Regions from separate parts of the Homo sapiens genome. Here region 1 is linked to region 2. A link means that fine-mapping ties the variant in region 2 to the expression of a gene that starts in the linked region. Tissue or cell type: caudate. Region 2 holds a variant in brackets; the other region holds the start of a gene. All regions are shown on one strand. Distances are from middle to middle.

Region 1 (5,000 bases), 51 kb after region 2:
CCTGCCCTTATGAACCTTACATTCTAGTGGCAGGAAATACTATAATGCCAGGGAGAAGGGAGAGAGAAATGAGAATGAAGAAAAATGATGCAGTGATGCATAGCCCTCTCTATCTCTTTGGGATACAGAGAGGGGGCGTGTGTTGTGGGGAGGAGGTGGGGGCTCTATTATAAAAAATATGGCCTGAGAAACTGCATGAGGAAGAGTCATCATGATTTGATACATGGAGATAGAGAAAACCACAGTGTCAGGGCTCCAAAAAAAAAAAATCACTTCCATTTTGGGAGGTAATTTCAGCTTCTTTGTATTTGATTTGGGGCAGTATATAAGTCTTGGGAAAAAAAGAAGTGACTAAAGCTTTTATTTTAGATGAGGAGGACTTAATGAATTTGTAAAATATGCTCCCTTTTGTGGGGAGAAGTACAGCAGTTTGCACGTTGGGAGAACAGCTGGCTCCAATACAGCTTGGTGGTGGGCTTCGACTGAACTGGTCATCGCCTAAGTATTTTGTGTATTTCTGATTACCTATCTCTCCAGGAGCCCACGTGAGCAAGACAGGTCTTCAAGCTGGTTCAATGCTCCCATTCTGTAGGCAACTACAAACTGTGGCTCACTGCATGACTTAACAACAACTGATTGAGAATTGTAAAGTGCAGCCTCGAGTTCATGTGTAGAAACTGCCATCTGCACAAACAAAACATTGAGAGGACTAAGATTTTAAGGATACTAATGCAGACGTCCTTCTTGCTTCATTTATTTAAAAATATCTATTTCACGTTCCTAACAGCATCTAGTAGATGTTTCTTGCTTCTTCCCCCTAACGCCGGACTAAAGAGAAAAAAAAAATAGGCTGTTTTCTGGTCTGGTTTTGTTTTCCTAGTCAAGTACTTAAATTACGGGTGTTTCGTAAGTATCTTTTGATGGATTTCATTGTTTTGTTTATTTCGCGTTAGACAATACAGACACCTTCATATTTCCTTCTGTAGCAAATCTTTTTCAAAGTCTTCATTTGACGTGGCTGATGGAGCTGGTCTGCAGATCTTGCAGACGTGTTAATTTTTGCACGGACTTTAGCTTCAACACACAAAACTTACGGCCTCTTTGAGGAACCAATTTTTCAGGCTAAGAGAACAAATGAAAGTGTTCGCTCATCTTTCGAAAACTATTTATGTACTTGGTATCCGGAATGTGACATTGGTTTTACACGTCGGTAGGTTTTTGTCCTAAATTTCTGGGAAGTTACTTCCTCATCTAACGTTTTATTTTCCTGACTTATTCGTCTTTGATATGCTACAGAAAACCCCTCTCGCCCAGTGGCTGTTTTCTCTCTGTCTCTTAAGATAATTTAGGAACAGAAGCCTTGACTTTTGACGGTCATTTAGTTTTATTCTCCTCCCGTGACTCCCCTCTGTACACTCACAGGGGAGGCCGCCGGCATCTGGGCTGAAAGAACCCTTGGCGGGCGAGGAGAGCAGGGTGTCATGTTGGCGACAGGCTCCTGCTGGCGGCCAGCGAGCCCGCCAGGTTAACGGGGGCGCCGGGGTCAGCGCCCTCGAAGTTGGGGGCCTCGGGCGGGGCCGCCGGGGAGCCACGACGGCCGCTCGACCAGAGCATCCCGCAGTCCCGTTCCCTCCAGAGGGGAAGAATGGCCGAATCTGGCACGATCCCACGGAGATCTCGCTCTTCCCAGCGCAGTCTCCGCTACTGAGCGCGGGACCAACGCAGGCGATGCCGGGCGGCCGACAGGGAAAGCCCAGACCTGGGGCAGAGAAGGAATGAGGGGCCGCCAGCCGGGGGGATTTCCTCCCGCTCTTCCCTCTCCAACGGGAGCGGAAAATGTGATTTGCTGTGCATTCCAGGCGCGGTTCCCTGGGGTGACCTCTCCCAGCCGGCCCGGGCGGGGGGAGCAGACAAAGAGGCGAGGCGGGCGGAGAGGGGACCCCGCGGGGAAGCAGGAGGGGTGCGGGGGGCGGGGGCAGTACCGGGAAAGGGGGCGGATAGCGGGTCTGGCGGCGGCGGCGGCGCCTGGCCAATGGAGAGGCGCGGCCCCGGGCGCCGCGCTCTGCCGCCGGCATTTAAACGGGAGACGGCGCGATGCCTGGCACTCGGTGCGCCTTCCGCGGACCGGGCGACCCAGTGCACGGCCGCCGCGTCACTCTCGGTCCCGCTGACCCCGCGCCGAGCCCCGGCGGCTCTGGCCGCGGCCGCACTCAGCGCCACGCGTCGAAAGCGCAGGCCCCGAGGACCCGCCGCACTGACAGGTGAGCGCGGACGCACCCGGCAGGGATGTGAGTGGGCGGAGGGAAGAGGGCCGCAAACCAACCCAGGACCCGCTCAGTTCCACGCGCGGCAGCCCTCCGTGCGCGCAGGCTCGGGTGCGTTGTTCGCGGGGGTGAATTGTGAAGAACCATCGCGGGGTCCTTCCTGCTGAGGCCGCGGACACCGTGACCTCGCTGCTCTGGGTCTGCAGGGAAACGTAGGAAAAAAAGTTGTCAGGAGCGGGCAGGATGACCCCCACATCCCGTTTCCACCTCCCGGAGGCCCCCGAACACGCTCCTGGTGCTGGTGGCAGCAGCGCCTGGCAGACGCGCCCGCTTAGCGAGGGCGCGAAGTCCAGGCCGCCAGAGCGCAGGAGCATCCGGACCTGCTAGTCGGCCGCTGACTGCGCGGCGAGTTGCCTTGAGAGGGTCCCATGTGCTTGGGGCGCCGCGCTGGGTCTGGGGGCGTCTTGGGGCGCCCATTGGAGTCCGCGGGTTGGAGCATCCGGAGAATCCATGATGTGTGCATTTGCCGATCCCCGAGGTGAGATGGAGACTGGCAAGGGCAGAGCCGCTGTGTTCAGCCACAGCGGAAAACCGAACGGTGGGTAATCCGACAGCTGCGGTGCGGGGCGCGGCCCTGGCCGCGGGGTCCAGCGAACCCGCAGTGCTCACAAGGCAGACACCACACGCGCTCGCGGACCGGCCACGCACTCGCGGGCGCTCGCTTCTCTACTCCAGCCTCTTCCCCGCCCCGCGCACGCCCGGGCTGAATGGTAGACGTTCTGGCGCCGGGCAGCGGCCACCGGCTGGTTCCCACTTCCGCGCGCACCCCTTAAACTGTGTTCTAGAGGCCCCAGCCTCGCCTTGCAGCGCCTCACTAGCTCCTGAGGACTAGGGACTGGCGGCTGAGGCGGGTTGGCGGCTGCAACGAGCTGGGCGTCTTTCGTTCTCTCTCGCTGCCTGGCTGGCTCCGCTGGCCCCTCCACAGCTTGCGGAGCAAGGCCATAGCAGGGGAGTGGGAGGTATATTGGGGCTGTCACCTCCTTGCTGGCCGGAGTTATTTGTAGACTACAGACTCCGGAAGAACAGACGCGCCACCGCTCTCGCTTGGCATTGCCTTCGGATCGCAGCTCCTCCTTGGGGGTGCCCCAGCTTGGCGTTTATTTGCCTGCGCCAGGCTCTGGCGACGGTCACCGGGCCAGGCGGGGAGGGACGGACGGCAGGTGACCAGCCTCTGCTGTGAAGAAATTCCTGCGCGCCCGGAGCTGTCCCTAATGCATTCCCGGGTCGAATCCGTCTACTGCCTTCCCCTCCTCGACCGACTCCGAATCTCGGCTCTTATAGACAGAAATACAGCCTCAGCGTTAGGGGTTAAAATCCCCCTCTTAAACGGTCCGAGGGCAGAGAGGTGACCACCGATAGGTAATTGGATCTCCTGCTGGAAAGAGCAAATCTGAGCGGTGTGCGCGTCTGTTTATGTTCCCCTTCGAGATGGTGCCAGGACACGAACTGATTAAAACAATCTATTGTGTTAAGTGGGTCACTAGGGTTTTAAGCTGTCCCAGGGACCCCAGAGTAGTGGCTTCCTTCTGGCTGTACACACAAGTTAAATAAATAGCGTAGAAGAGGTTAAGATAACCCCATTCTAGGGTGAGGAGTCCTCTTTCATCCCTAGGGCTTCCCCCTCCCCTTTTCTCTTTTTTTGGAAGGAGGGGGAGCATGAGAGTCTTGAGGGGGGGATGTACTTTTCAAAGCAAGGAGGGAAAGATCTTAAGAAAACTATATATTCTCACTGCCCCCCAAGCCAAGTCTATAACAGTAGGTGATTTGATTACTATCTCTGGATAAATGGCACTGTCAAATTGTTAATATTAACTATTTCAGGGATTTTTAGCAGGGTAGTGGCAGTATGTGTGCGTGTGTGTGTGTGTGTCTGTGTGTGTGTGTTTAACCTCCAGGTCATTGTAGGAATTAGAGTCTTTTGTAAACTTTGTAATTTCACAGGTTTCCTATTTTCTTAAAAGTTCATTTTTAGTGAAATGTTTTGGTAACCCACGCTCTGTAGGAAATCCAGGTTGGCTAATGCGGTCTTTATGTGAGTAGTTACACAGGGAAGGATAAAAACCTTTTATGTCCTACATCTCTGAATGAGGGCTGCCTACCCTGTCTTTGAAACTAAGCCGAAGATGCCTTCAGTCTGAATGGTCAAGTATTAAAAGTGATAAAATGCAAAGAAATTTCATGCCGCAGACACCTCCCCCAAGAACTGCTTGTTGACAGCAAAGCTGTGGAACATGTTCCACAACAGAGAGTAAAGGACAGCCAGGAAATATAAACCTTTTATGTAAAGGAAAGGCAGGTGGGGGACAGTGGTTAGGGGAGGTGACTGCAGCCTCTAACCAAAAGGCAACCATCAGGCAAGTGCTACCAGCCCGTGTCTTCGATCTGCAAGGAATTTTCTTTAGTTTTAACATATGCTCTTAGAAATTCAAAGTACAACAGGAATTCCTGGGACAAGAGAAATCTTTTTATTCACATGTGAACATGAAGATACAAAATAGATAATTATTTTATTTATAGCACTCTTCAAATTGTATTGCATTAGAAAACATATCCATTGACCCACTGTTAAGGACAGCACTGGGTGTCAATAGGACAGTGGTTAAGGACCTGTGTTTGGGGCTAGATAGAATTGGGTTTAAACTGCTGGCTGGGCTAGGCACAGTGGCTCACACCGGT
Region 2 (7,787 bases):
TGGTCTTTTGTGGCTGTCACTGCTTGTCCTAGCCAATGCTATACCAGCTTGACTTTGTGGCAGGAGGCATCAGGGTATCCAGATAGACTTACTGTTTTAAAAGAAACAGCATTTCCAGGCTGGCTAGGACAGAGAAAACTACGTAGAACAATACTTTTCCTACCTGGTGGATCATCAGAATTACCTGGGAAGCTTAAAATGAAAGATTCCTGGCCCCTAATCTCTCCAGGAATTCAAATATGGTAGTTCCAGGGAGTCTGAGCTGCTTGGGATTTTTTTCAGTGCCACCAGTGATTCTAATGATTGTCTAGCTGTAAGCAGTGGGACTCAAGTTTTGAACAGAGGCATGAGAAGAAAATGGCATTTCCCTGCAGATGGGCTGTACCAGCTGCAGCTTCAAGTCCAGTGCCTCTTGTGGGAAAGGAGCCACTCCCTTGTCATTCGCCACATCTACACTGCAACGCTGGTTTATGTCAGACTATCATCTTTGACTCGGCATGACAACAGTGCATATTTGAAGGCCATCAAACCAATGATATTAGCCTTGTTTACGGTTTAGCTGGAAAATATCTCCCATGTGGTATAGTAAGAAGAGCACTGAATTTGAATTCTGAAGCTCACCAGAGTGTTCCACTGACTAGTCTCAGGGCTACTGTGAGCACCCAGTGAGAGTGGCCATGAGAGGTGACACACTGCACAAGTCAGGGCACTGGAATCATGGGACAAGATGGGACCTTAGAGAATGTCTTGTCTGCCTGCCTCATTTCATAGTAGAGAAAATGAGGCCCTGAGAGGTAAAGTTCTTCACTGAAGGTCATACGCCAGCTATTAGTAGTGTAGCCAGCACCAGGGTGTCCTAGCCTTTGCCTCCTTCTGTTTCTCACTGTGCCCTCCTTCCCTACATTGCTCTCTTTTGGGATCTGAGGAATCATATTCAATCACCTTTCATTTTCAGAAATGAGGAAACCCAGGCCTCGTTTGTCCATGGCTACAAAACTAATTGATTTATATTTGCTTTGGATGACTAGGAGTTAAAATAATGACAGGTGAAAAATCCAAGATGGCGTTTGTATACCGCTTTTAAGAGCAATCCACAGCAGATTCAAGTTTTGTGAGGCCTGAAACTCATGCAATTTGAAAACTTTTTTCAAGAAAAATAACACACAATTGCAAATGAAAAGTTAGGTTCCAGGCCTTGGAAGCAGTCTGCGCCCATGAGGGGCCCTCATTCACTTCACTATAAATCCACCTCCAGGAGCAGTAATAAAGAGATCCCTACTCATGTTTGTGCTGCTAGGTTCTTCTGTTTGTATAAATAGCATGTGTCCTGCTAAGTCACCTCCACTCTTATAAAATGGAGGCCATTCTGCCAACACATGTGTATTGAACATCTCTTTATCTGTAAGGAATACAGAAGGGAACCAAGAAAGGAAACTAAGCTACCATCTCTAACTCAGGAGATGAGGCACAAAGGCAGAATGGAGGAATTCCCTCCCTGCTGTGGTCTGGGCCAGGGTGCCTATGGGAGCCCAGCCTCTAGGAGGTCTCCAGTTTTAATCTCAGATAATCTTCCTCTTGTAGTCATTCTTCTCCCTCTGCCTATCAAATGCAGATGTTGAGATGAGTAAACCCTTTGGGGTTTTTGGATGAAAAACTTTTCAAGATTTACATGACATTTTTGGGGTTGTGCCTACCCAAAAAAGTCTTATATCTCACATCACTGCCTTAGAAATGAATTAAAGGTGCATTTATCCATCAGGGCCACATTCCCCTAAAATGCACCTAATAGCACTGAAACAATTAGAATAACACAGGGATCCTGAATAATCCATGCCTCTTGTCAAGAAATTTTTTTCTATTTTTATTTTTGTAAAACAGCTTCCTTATCCAGTTGTGTTTAGTTTATTTAAACGATCACATCAGCATTAGGTTCTGGTTTGGGGTTTTTTTTTTTATTTGTTTGTTTAAGTCTCGTTTCTGACACTTTCTGAAAGATGCAACATGGAGATAGGCCAGGAGGGAAACTAGTTTTAGGGTGTTCTCATTACATTCATTTTATGTCATTTTTTATTATTAGGTTTACATTATTGAATTCCTGTGGAGAAGAGGAGTCAGAGCTGTGAATAAGTCATAAGTCCCTATAGGTAAAATCAAGTACTATTTGTCTCTGATCAAAATTGCCCTTTCCATTGATAGGAGAAATGACTGGGCCTCCTTGTCATCCAGAGTTCATTTTGTTTTTCGTGGCAGTTTCACTGTCTTTGGGAATTGAGCTTTTTGAAATGTTAAAGCACGAGAAGCATGAACACCTTGGCAGGGTTTGCAGTATCTCCTTCTAGTGCAGGATGGAGGGCTCCAGAGCTGGCAATTTGAGGAATGGCTGGTGGCTTCTGATGTCACCTGCCACTCATGTGTCCCTCCCTGTTTTGAATCATGGATCTCAAACATCCTCAAAAGCTCTTCCCTGGTAATTTCAAAACTCTGAACAAATCAATCCTAAGAAAAAATAAACAAACATGCAGAAGAGCAGAAGGATATTTAGGATATGGTTCTAATTAAAATTTTTAAGTTTTCCTTTTTCAAAATCCTGTATGAGCTATTAAATAGGGAAAAACAAACTTCTGAGTAGGAAAGAAATAAAGGCCATTACCCTTAGAGATTTTGAATCTTACAATAAACAAATAGGTCTTCTTTTCCCCGAATGTTTCTTCTTATCAACACAAGGGAGTTGAGTGATGGCTACAGCTCTAAAATACTGAACATGGCTGCCTACTGAATTCAGCATACATACGTAGGGATATGTTACATAAGATGCACATACATACTTTATTTCTATTAGCCTGTGAAACAGTGAACATGCCTGCTCTTATAAAGCTTCTAGTAAAGGAACTACAAAAGAAACACATCTACTGGGCATTCTCACACTGGCTGAGGTAGGTTGGAACCATCTGGATTCTTGCCTGTGGCATAGTTAACCTCGTGACTATCCAGTTTTCCAATTATCCAGGCCCATTTACCTCTGCTCCCACTCAGCGAGCCCTTTGGCTATTTCTCTGTTCATTGGCACCTAAAGTCAAGGAGAAAGAAACGAACATTTATTAAGTGCTATGTTTGTACCAGTTAATCTTCTCAATGAAGTATTATTATCACCCCTGTTTTACAGAGAAGGAAACTAATATTCAAAGAGGTAAGATAACTTGTTCAGGACCACATATGTTTTTAAGTATAGAGCTCATGCATTATAAAGTGACCACCCTAGCTAACATTTATTAAGCACAATATTTGCCAGAATTCTTGCAAAAAGCCTTACAAGGACTATTTTATTTTATCCT[C/T]ATACCAACGGCTTAAGGATGGTATTACTTAAGTATTCTTGTTTTACAGATGAGGTCATACAGCTAAGGTGATGAGGCCAATATTCAAACTCAAGCATCTGGATTGCAGGCTGCACTTTTGATCGCCATGTCTAGCCTCCTCTATACACCTGCTCTGACCGATTTGGTATTCACCACGCCCAAGAGGCTACTGAACACCTGAAATATGGCTGGCTGGAGTTGTGATGTACTCTAAGTATAAACTACACACCCTATTTGGAAGACAGTATGCAAAAAAGAATATAAAAAGTCTCTTTGGCAATTCTTTATATCAATTACATGTTGAAATGATAATTTGGATATATTGGGATTAAAAATTATTTAATTTCACTATTTCTTTTTACTTTTTGAAGTGAGAAGACTAGACAATTTAAAATTACAAATGTAGTTCATATTCTATTTCTATAGAACAGCACTGCTATATACTATTTTAAAATAATATATAAAGGGGACTAGAACTGACTCAGGCCAACATTATTTTTCATCAATAGTTCTAGTTAAAAATTTGGTTGGAAGTGGGTGGATGGGAAGGTTGAAGCCCATTTTTAAAGATAAGTTTGGTGTTTTTATGAATTTGAGTTATGTGTGCTTTCTTCACCCGTTTTACCATGTGTGGGTAAGAGACTTGCCATTTTTAAGAATCAGAAGAATTCTGTGAGGTGTATTTCCAGTGTCTGTGTGTAGTGCTGCAGCTGTCTGAGCGTATTGCCGGAGGCACCTCCTTTGGACTTTAAGGCACGAATTGCTCATCACTGTCCACACAGCTTTGTGGCCGCCTTTGAGTCTATCTCTTTTAACATAACATTGAGTTCTGGCTCCAGGTCTGGCACAAAGTTGATAATAACTAGTGAATACTGTTTTGTTTGGTTTGTTGTAGTTTTATTCTTTTTTTTTTTTTGAGACAGAGTCTCACTGTGTCGCCCAGGCTGGAGTGCAGTGGCACAGTCTCGGCTCACTGCAGCCTCCGCCTCCTGGGTGCAAGTGATTCTCCTGCCTCAGCCTTTCGAGTAACTGGGACTACAGGCACACACCAGCATGCCTGGATAACTTTTTTGTATTTTTATTACAGATGGGGTTTCACCATGTTGGCCAGGCTGGTCTCAAACTCCTGACCTCAAGTGATCCACCCGCTTCGGCCTCCCAAACTTCTGGGATTATAGGCATGAGCCACCGGACCCACTTTATTCTTAATACCTATTGCCAGGCAGAGGTTACATGGATATAAAAGAGAGAAATTGGGAATATTTGTATGAGATGGGAAACCACAGGCCAGGAAAGCATTACCAAAGGGTTGTAGAGGATTTAGTCTGGGCCCCTCCCCAACGTACACACCACGTGCCTTCTCCTCTCGAGGCTAGAATTAACCCTCACCCCACCACCAGCTGCCAAAAAATAGTAGTAGCTGCTGGGAACTCAGAAACAGAAAAGAATTTTCTATGAGATTACTGTCTAAAACAAATGTTTATTCTAGCCATTTATAAAGAACACTTATGGATTTACAGCAGCTTAGGATAGTGAAAAAGAAGTAGAGGAATGGTAATTAATTCAGGTACGAATTTGTAAGGCCAAGTGAGAATCACGTTCCTTGTCGTGGCCCAAAAGGCCTTGTCAGACTCAGATGGAGTCTCCTCGTTTTAGTCTACAGACATATGGGTGGAAGTGACATGATGGAATAATTACATTCCCAAGCCGTGTACCCAAAATCTGTGCTAGGACCACTCCCCTGGCCAGTGCGGAACCAGGTCAGCTGGTGGAAGGGGCTCTGAATGGGCACAGCGCTGCCAGGCCCTGCCACTCCCACCTCATCCCATCCAGAATGGGTCCAACACAGTTCCTGCTAACCCTTATCCACACCTCCTCAACCATAGTCCCCAGTGACCTGCTTCCTCTGTGAAGCCCAGGCTGACTGGAAGGTGACCCTCAACAGAAACCATCAGAGAGCTTTGGGTCTGGGGCGGAGGGTCACCTCCACTCTCACGGTGGTGTCTTGGTGTTAATGTCATCTGTTGGCTCAGCCATTCATTGCTTCTCTCTTCCCTAAGCTCCTGCAGATCTCCTTTACTCGTTTCTTAAGTGTAGGAAGCTATCTCCTTGGATGCTGGGTCACTAATTATAAACTTCCTATGCATTTACCTGGCTCTGGTTTGGCCCCTAATGTCTTTATTTCTGCCTGCAGGATTGTCATTGCCATTGCCCCTTTTCCTTACCTGGGAACCCGACATACTCTGCTTATCCCTTGAGCTGGCACACCAGGGGGCCTGGAATTCCTGTTGGTGAAGTCACTACTTTAAGAGAATTATCCCAGAAATCCTCTAAGTTGCAAATCCTACAGGAGCAGAGTACTACATGTTAATTAGCACTCATTATCATGTTAGTAGAGAAGCTTACCCAAAGGAATGATACATAGGACCTGCTATGTCATTGAGAACAGAGAGGTGGGGCTCAGGTTCTGGACAAATGATGTCATAAGTAAGTGTAGTTTCAGAAAGGAAGATGAAGTGGGAGCTTTAGATAATTGGAGGCGGTAGGCCTGTATATGGAACCAGATGCTAGAGAGCCCAAGTCCATATTTTTACTTTTTCACAGTTTTGTGTCCATATCCTCACCGAATCCCAACCACCACCACCACAGTTCTATATCCCGTTATTTTTTCAATAATAACTGATACCTCAACTTAAGCTCCACTCTGACCCTCAGCTAAGCCATATAATTTCAGCAAGAATTATAAAATAAAGTTTTTAAAGGACAAACATGAGCCTTAACCTTAGTATAAAGACATGCTTAGCCTTCATACAAATTGCCAAGTTGAGACTTCATTTCAGACGGCAAATAAAAGTTACATGAAGGAGCTAAAAGTGCTATTGCAAATTACCTATTTGAAACGGCTTTTTCAAAACCTGCTAAATTCACACCTCTCCTAAAAATGCTTCACTTCCAGATTATTTTATTTTGGGGTTTTGTGTGTATGTGTTAGAGGGGGTGGGGTTTGTGGTGACTACAGAAAAATTAGTTAAATTCATAGGATAAAATTTGAACTTTTGCAAATGAGTAAACAGCCAAAACAAACACCGCTTCAGAAAAAAAAAAAAATACACGTTTTCTCCTTTTGGAAAGCAAGCAATGCTTAAGCAAAATACCTTAAAAGTTAACTAAAAAGCTTTTCTAAAATAAACAACTCTGCTTGTGATCCTAAATTGGGACCACATGTAGATGTGAAAGCTACAAATGCAGTGCACTCAGAATTTGCGTCTCTGCCTTCACTGTTTGCGTGCCTCTGAGTAGATGATGATAATGTTGGCTTTGGTCCCCAAGGAGCCTGAGTTTTTTAGATCCTAGTATGAGGGGGAAAAGCAGAAGAAGAAAGAGAAGGAATGAAAACAAATGCCTTTCAAGACAAAATATCCGAATGGGTTTCATTTTGCTTATCTGCCAACAGGCTCAACCCAATTTAGATCTCTCCTACAAGGACAGGATAGTGCCAGCCAGGGTGTCTGCCCTTGCCGGCTATGTGGGGCAGTCCCTGTGAGGGACCAGGCTCGAATTCAGAGCAGAAGGATCACTCTAGCAAACTGCCAGGGCCAGCCCTCTGCCCTGAGGCAAGTCAATGAATTAGCCAATTCAGCACAGATAGAATCATTCCTTTGTTTTTCTCAATTACCAAATGCTGTGTGCTTTGGGGGTCACTTGTCATGTGAGTTTAGAGAATGTGGATATTGCAACATAAACCCTCACCATTCTAAACAGCTTAAACTAAATTCTGTTACTAGGGAGGAGAGCTGAGGTGATAATATCCATCTCTAAGTATAAACTATTGTGTGTTCATTTTCCCATTATGGGAGACAAATTTCTCTTCTCCGCTAGTGCTCATGATCTCTTCCACCAGGCACAAACATCAGATGTGTGTTTATGTGGACATATTTTGTCCCCTATTATTGGAGAGCAAGCTCCTTGAGAGAAGGGATTATGCTGCCTGGATTTGTAACTTTGTTAGGCAAAGCATGACTTTATTTAGTTTTGAATTGATGAGGAGGCACTGATGTTAGTAAAAAGCTCAAATGTCCTGAGCCCTGTTGCTCAATACCTCAAACACAGGACCATGATCACCACAATGAAAAATATGCAGGATCATTAATTTCGGCTCTGTTAATTGTGCTGTTAGGAAATGTTGACTAGATAGGAAAAGCAGCTAACGTTCATGGAGTGCTTATTACATACCAGGTACTGAGGTAAGCATTTTACATACAGTATCCGATTTGTATCCTCCCACAAGCATGTTATCCCCGGGTTAAAAGGGGAGGAATTGGGGTCCAGTGAGATTGGGAGGTTATGAGAATCCCACAGTGTGTGGCAGAATGTGGACTTGAACTCAGGGCCCTAACAACAGGAAGCTATAAAAGCCTCTTTGTATAAAAAGTG

What was found. PIP is the estimated chance that this variant, and not a neighbour inherited with it, causes the effect.
Region 1: it holds the start of GREM1, and the variant in region 2 is fine-mapped to the expression of GREM1 in caudate (GTEx, PIP above 0.99). The same link has a PIP of 0.9 or more in cerebral cortex, hippocampus, nucleus accumbens, prefrontal cortex, putamen and spinal cord.

Annotation. Positions count from the first base shown.
Region 1 is chr15:32,715,901-32,720,900 of GRCh38, forward strand. It overlaps GREM1 (gremlin 1, DAN family BMP antagonist), which reads left to right and starts at 2,104. Exons shown (of 2, transcript NM_013372.7): 1 at 2,104-2,261. GREM1-AS1 (GREM1 antisense RNA 1) reads right to left here and starts at 2,965. Exons shown (of 2, transcript NR_109767.1): 1 at 2,645-2,965; 2 at 2,201-2,464. RefSeq lists enhancers at 1,610-2,110, 2,248-2,826, 2,827-3,404.
Region 2 is chr15:32,663,422-32,671,208 of GRCh38, forward strand. The region is part of intron 10 of ARHGAP11A-SCG5 (ARHGAP11A-SCG5 readthrough); the gene reads left to right. All of the region lies in intron 2 of SCG5 (secretogranin V), which reads left to right. It overlaps SCG5-AS1 (SCG5 antisense RNA 1), which reads right to left. Exons shown (of 4, transcript NR_135505.1): 2 at 5,579-5,697; 3 at 3,018-3,067; 4 at 2,281-2,496. It overlaps LOC124903458 (a long non-coding RNA gene), which reads left to right and starts at 170. Exons shown (of 2, transcript XR_007064573.1): 1 at 170-2,144; 2 at 3,382-3,699. RefSeq lists an enhancer at 6,761-7,293. The variant C/T (reference allele first, on the strand shown) is at 3,333.